Linked DNA regions of Homo sapiens. The protein of the gene in region 1 interacts with the protein of each later gene in a biochemical or structural test. Each region holds a gene or a part of one and is shown on either strand. Other genes may lie near its edges.

Evidence for each region. The genes of interacting proteins can lie anywhere in the genome.
Region 2: the proteins of MRPS6 (region 1) and TLK1 form a complex in vitro, tested with the Homo sapiens proteins (one large-scale study listed by BioGRID).

What each region holds. Positions count from the first base shown.
Region 1 is NC_000021.9:34,122,068-34,125,727, reverse strand, and holds part of MRPS6 (small ribosomal subunit protein bS6m), read right to left. Parts: intron 388-3,660; coding exon 248-387; intron 1-247.
Region 2 is NC_000002.12:170,990,321-170,993,766, forward strand, and holds the end of TLK1 (serine/threonine-protein kinase tousled-like 1), read right to left. Parts: 3' UTR 503-3,446; downstream 1-502. UniProt on the Homo sapiens protein: Rapidly and transiently inhibited by phosphorylation following the generation of DNA double-stranded breaks during S-phase. This is cell cycle checkpoint and ATM-pathway dependent and appears to regulate processes involved in chromatin assembly.

The DNA of each region.
Region 1 (3,660 bases):
CACAAGCTAGACTTGGTAAGCCCTTTGCTCCTAGGATGGCCTAGTTTTGAACTCAGATCATAGTCCACGAAGGGCCAGCATATCACATCCCATCTGCAACACAAGACTGCCAGAGTGTGTACCCAAAGGACACCTAGGCGCAACAGGGGTCTCAATGTGAAATTTTAAGAACTTCTAATAGTAATTGAACAGTACTCTTTACTGAGCCTATCAAAAACGTCTTTCAAGACTTCATGAAGAAACTTACCCGCCTCTGTTGTGCTGCTGACTGTGGGCAGAGATCCTATAAGGAAGCGCTCGTTCACCCAGGTTTTCCAAGTCCCTCACTATTGCTCCTCTGTCCATCAGGGCCTCTATCGTACGTTTCAAAGTAGCAGCAGTCTCTGGCTGTTTTTGTTTGTGTTTTTAAAGAAAAGAAAAAAAAGCATCAGAATTAATATAAGAGCTAGAATGATTAAGTCTGCTCAGTTCCAATCATAACAGCTCTACTGGTAGGAATCGCTGGGTAAAAGCAACAGAAGCTGGTTTTGGTTAACTTAAAATAAAAGAGAGAGAGAATTTATTGTAAGGATATGAGATAGCTCACAGATACGAGGAATATCTGAAGAACCAGGCTTCGGAGAGTTCAGGGACCAGGGCAGCTCCAGGGATCTGGGAGGCAGGAACTAATGAGTGGCTTCTTCAGAGCACCTCGGCCAGGCTGAATCAGTGCCAATCACTGTCAGTCCTTGTATCCCATGACTCAAAATTCAAATTCCAGGAGAAGAGTATCTCGTTGGCAGGACACCTGAACTGCCCATCCCACCAAAACTGTAGCCAGGGGGAAAAGGTGTTGTCTCCCAAAGAAAAACTGGGAGACTGTAACCAAAAGGGGGAAAGGATGGGTAATCAGACCCAAACTCTGCCCTCATGGAGCTTACAATCTAATAAAGGACAGAACACAAAATACACATGTATGGAGAGCAGAGGGCAGAATACAGGAAATAGCATAGAGACCAGAGGGCTCACGAAAGGAAGAAACATTCAGCTGGAAGAAGGGTTTCACTAAGGAAAGTTTACTTGAAAGGCACCCGGAAAATGATGACCGGAGGTACAAAGAATGAATGAACCAGCAACTGAGCCCCAGTGATGGGGTTCAGGGCAAGGGAGTGCTGAGGAGATAGACGGGTATACACTGGGCACAAGTCCATGAGTAATCAAGGCCTGTTATTTAAAAAAAAAAAAAAAAAAGCTTGAACAATATAGAATCCCATTACCCAGAGATAGACTGGATGGTGAATTAAACTTTCTGGTGAATTTCTTTCCAGATATCTCTCTATGCATATGTATACACAAGCAATTTTTGGAAGAAAAGATACTTTATAAGGATAAGCCTGAAAACTGCAACGAATGCAATGTGGAGAATGAAGGCAAGATGTGGCGAAGAAGGGCACCACAATCTGGTGGCTGAGAGAGTGCAACTGTCACTACAGCTAAAAGGAGAGCTGGAGAAGCTGGTGAGGACAGTAAGAGATGAATCTGGTTTAAGACACGCTGAGTCTCAGATGCCATGGCTCCCCTAGGTTGACCTCTCCAGATGTAAATCTTAAGCTCAAAGCAGGTGGATGAGAAATACACATTTCATAGTCACCTGCACAGACGGCTCTCTGAAGCCTGAGAAGGAGGTGAGATCAATAGAAAGGGTGGAGGGGGAGAGGAAAGGAGATCACCAGCAGAACCTTGGGGAGTACAAACATTTAGGGGCTAACAAGAGGACTCAAAGTCAGAGAAGCAAATATAAAACGTATCATCAAATAGGACAAGGAAAATCGGGAGACTGCCTTGTCCAGAATGACAATGGGGTAGAGGACAGAGATCAAGAAAAAGCCGCGGTGTGGTAGCTACATGGGCATTTGGCAAGATGGGGCCAGAAAGCAGGCTGCCAAGGTTCCCATGGTAGAGGTATGAGAACAATGGTGAGGAGGAGAAAATGCCAGGGCTCCAGGGACAAGCAACTTGAGCAACGTGTTTTAGGAGAAAACACATGGGCAAGTTGGTAGTCAAAAAGGAGCGGACCATGCAAGACGATAAAATGTAGGATTTCTAAAATAGCAACAACGATGACAGCTATGATTTACTGGATAACTACTATATGGTCTAGTGTCTTATTGTTACATATTTTATCTTCATAAAAAAAAAAAGCCAAGAAGGTTTACAGATTTGGGATGGGATCTCTAGAGAGATGCTGACAGGGCAGCTATTAAGTGGAAACGCCTGCTGCAAGGAGAAGGAAAGCTGTGGAAACCATCGGGGAGGAAGCCAGAGGCACACCTTGGCAAAGACAAGGTGCACATCTCCTCAAAGACCTACGTGAAGAGGTGCAAGCAGGGTGATTTTAAAGTGCAGGAGGAAACTTAAGAATAGGCTACCTTCCAGAGGTTCATTTGGGGATCAAATGAAGAGAAAATTGCAGAACAAGTTTAAGTGTGCATTCTGGCAACCAAACAAAATCCACTATATTTTTAAAATTTTCTTTCTGACAAGTGCTGCTAAAATGGTATGAAATGTGCTAAGTATTGGCTTAAGGCTTAGAAAAAAACATTCTTTACTTTCTTTTCATATTGAAGTCCATTAGGGATTTTAAAAATTCCTACTGAATCGTTGTTTATATATTTAACCAACCTTAAGATAAAACAGAAATTTCCTGAAGACAATAAAAATTCAGGCCAAAATCTCTTCCCATTAACAGTAGGTAAAAAGTCTAAGGCAATTTATCCTTATGATTGTATCAAACACATTCCTAGACAGTTCTAATCATATGAAGACTACATTCTTCTCACATTTCATTATAGTTCACAAAGACATCGCCATACATCTGCAGAGGACTCATTATTAACAGCAGCACAGTATTTCATTTAACTGAAAATGCTGTTTCTTGACCTGGCATTACATCAATTAACGTATGATAAGGTAAAGGAACAGCCCATCCAAATAAAGAGTCGGGTCTCAGCTTTGCACTCAAAAAAAAAAAGGAAAAAAACATTTGATTGATTAGTTTTCTGATTAGCTACCCAAATAAATTTCAATTCCAGTTTTGCCTGATTAAAAAGGAATATATCTCAATATCTTTTAAGTTCCAACTGAAGTGTTTACAGTATAAAACTCATTACCCTCTTCTGAAGTAAGAGCTTATAAAGTAAAAAACATTTTCTTCTTACATCTGTCTCAAAAAGGGGAAAGGCTACCTAACAAGAATGTAACTTAGGAAAATATAAAAAAAAAAATTGTTTGACTTCAGTATGTCAAGGTCAAACTGTAGACTACTGGAATGGCCACATTCATCTCACTTTAATTTCAAAACACCCAGAAGTATAAAACGAAAGGTGGAAGGAGGAGCAAAAATAACGCCCCATAGACCTTACCTCACCATAAAGCAGGGTTGGCAAACCAGGGCTCTTGGGCCAAATCTGGCTTGCTACCTGTATTTGCAAATAAAGTTGAACTGGAACACAGCCAACTCACACATCTGCATAGTGTCTATGGCTACTTCTGTGCTAAAGGTAGATCTGTAATTACAAGAGACCACATGGCCCCAGAGCCTAAACTATTTACTATCTGGCCAACCCCTGGTTCTATATTGTGATGGGCTGAGGGAAGCTGGCAGGTCCTTAATCCATGTAC
Region 2 (3,446 bases), on another chromosome or scaffold:
GTGCAGAGGTATGATCTCAGCTCACTGCAACCTGCGCCTCTGGGGTTCAAGTGACTATCCTGCCTCAGCCTCCTGAGTAGCTGAGATTACAGGTATGCACCACCATGCCCAGCTAATTTTTTTGTACTTTTAGTAGAGATGGGGTTTCACCATGTTGGTCAGGCTGGTGGTCTCCAACTCCTGACCTCAAATGATTTACCTGCCTTGGCCTCCCAAAGAGCTGGGATTACAGGTATGAGCCATCACTGCCAGCCTAAAAGCACTTTTTGAATTAGATTAAATCTTCAGAACATTGAAATTTAGTATATGTAGATGAAAAATCATCAGTTAACAGGTCAAAACTTAAGGCAGAATTAAAGAAAGACCTGTCAATGGGCTTTTAAATGTGTAAGTAAGGTTATAACATTCACACAAAAATCAAACAGCAATGTAATTAAATTTTAAGAGTAAATTAATCTAGGTGAACTGTACTATACAACTAAAACACAGCTAATAGCATGAGGGCAATCAACATTACTGCATTTAATAAGTAATGATGAACAGCAAAACAACACACAATATACTCTTTAAATGTTTCACTGAAGCTCTTCACCATTTTGACTTCATGTAATGAGGTGTTTGTTCACATTTTATATGCCATTTAAACTGACAGAGTTGTTTTAGAAGGAGATGGTAGTGAGTGTTTAAAAAAAAAAAAAAGATTGAGTCTTTATTTTTGAAAAACCACCAAGTATCTCCAACTCCCAACTTACAAATTAGGGTGGTTTCTACACTTACTTCCTCTCAACATGCACACACTAAAGCAAATTCAAATCAAAGAAAGATTTTAAAATCATATGCAAAAACTGTTGATTTTACCCTACATCAGTGCTGACTCTTAATAAAAGAGAGGCCTTGGCTATCATCTTAGGGATGCAGGACATGCTTTAATTCTGAGGACAGACACCAGGAGACCAGAAAACAATAAAACCCTAAAAAAAACAGTGTCAAAGACTGTCAGAGTGACCTTGAAATCATTTAGCAATAGATACCAACTTTCCATGTGAGGGTAAAAGTAAGTTATTCAATGTGGCTAAATTAGCCATCTTGGTTAGCCATCTTGGACCTGCTGGGTCACTGGCATGTTATTCAAAATCTATAACATTTCTTTGGGAAACTTTTAGAAGGAAAATATGGGTCTATAAGTTGATTCATCTCCTACACATCTTTGATTTTAAAATGATGACCTAAACCCAGGTCAGGAAAGCAACTTCATTTCATGGCTTGTTTTTCCCCTTTTCTGCGTTCTGCCACTAGCAGTCGCTCTCATTCATTTGAAAGTAAAATGGTAAAGCAGTGATCTCTAGGTCTATACTACTTAACTTACTGAACCTCAAAGTTAGATTTACACATTCACTTCGTATCTCCCCAAAATTTTAAGCACAACAGGCATTTCCTTTTAGTTCAGGAATTTAAATGTTACTTTATGAACATAGGACTTTATCATTCATAAAGACGAAAACTCTAACAACAAAACTGAAAACTTGCAGGCAGCACGTAAAGCACTCAATCAATGCTAAGATTTCATTACCATGTAGTATTTTTTTTTTAATAGGATTTCTCTGTGCTCTACAGAGGAATGGGTATAGCCAGCCCCTTAAACCACTCTTGATGGTTCTAAGTGTTACTTACCCAGGAGTTGCCTTGATAATGGTTATTAGGTTTAACTTTAACAGCTTGAAACAATTTACACTTGTCTTGAAGTATACTTAAGGAATTTATTCAGCTGATTTTTAAGTGAAGGAGCTCAGTTAGTCAATATCCTACCATCTTGAAAGCTCCCTTCCAATGTAATTTTCATAGTCTTTACATTTTAACTGTCATTGTTTATTACTGTTTTGGCTATACTCTCTACAATTTCAGCAGCATTTTAAAGAGACAATGTGTCTATGTACAATGAAAAAACAAAATGGCTTGCAACATCAGAAATACAGTTTAACTGTACAATATTAAAGAGAATCCGTGGTACGTATAACCTTTTTCTGCAACATGAACAACTTACATGTAAGTATCAGCATTATGAATGTGACAATAAAGAAAAAGTCCTTACAGGAGTGAAATACAGCATCCTGAAAAATATTGGTTTCTACCCTACGAGGCAGTTAGAAAACGTTCACATTTTAACAAATCTGTACAAACCACAAGAAATTTGCTTATGGGACCATCTTGCTGATAAGAACTTTCTAGAAATGTAGAATAACCATGAACAAATTAAAAATCTAGTATCTATGTGTTCTACAGCCCTAGAACCCAATAAACTGATTTAAAAACTCAATTATGTCCAACATGGATCACTTTTACATCTTGATTGTTAATGACTGTCTGCTTTTTAATATCTATGATGTACAGTCAACTTGCACCTTCTAGGTCATTTAATTTTTTAGCAAAGAAGCAACATCATTTAGCAGCAATTAGAGTGCCTTCAAGAAGACTTAAAAAAAATACAATATCCAATTAGAAAAGCCATATTTTAAACATTTGTACAAGAATAAGCTGCTGAAACTTAGTAATTGAAATATGACATCTGTACAACAATTTACAATAGAGCTAGAAGGGAATTTATCATTATCCTGCATAGAACTGGTCTGCATTTGGTTACTCACTGTCACCTGTTTTGATGAACAAGGCCTGGTAACAAAAGAAAAATACCTGTTATCAATTCTAACGTGTTGAAAACACTGGCAATATTATAATTTAGTGAATTCAACTGATTTCAACACAAGCAGCTCATTTTGTCAAAGGTGTAAAGTATTTAGAAATAATAGCTCTCCCTTTAATATAACCAGTGAAAGAAAACGGACATGTGATCTCGAGGTACAACTTGGTAAAAGTCTGAATAGGCAAATGACAAAGCCTAACTTTGTCCAAAGATTCTAACTCTCACATTCTATTACTATAAAACACAACTGTCACTGTCATTCAGTTCTTACTTTGGTTTCAGCAGATTAACTGCCAAATGCTGAAGAATGTATCCAGGCACTATAGTTCGTATGTTAGAAATATGTCTCATATTTTTCCATGTGTTTTTAAATAATGAAAAACTACCCTTCATATTAGAACTCTCTAGTAACAACCAAATGTATTTAAGTATTATAAACGTTATTTACAGTGTTCCCCCAAATAAACAAAATTTTTTTCCTCTATCTTAACATGGTATTCCTGTTTCTGTGTAACAGGCAGTCATCCTTCCTTCACTGCTCAAAATTATAGTCAGAAGTGTGCATTTATTCATTGTCCATGATCCTCTCTCATACAAATGACACTATGAGGAACTTCAGTTCACAAACAGTTCTTAACCACGTCTTGTGTAAAAAAAAAAAAAAAAAAAAAAGAAAAAGAAAACAAACACTCAAATGCTCTCAAACTTAAGTGTGCATCTGGAAGCAAATTCAAAGATATCATGCCAA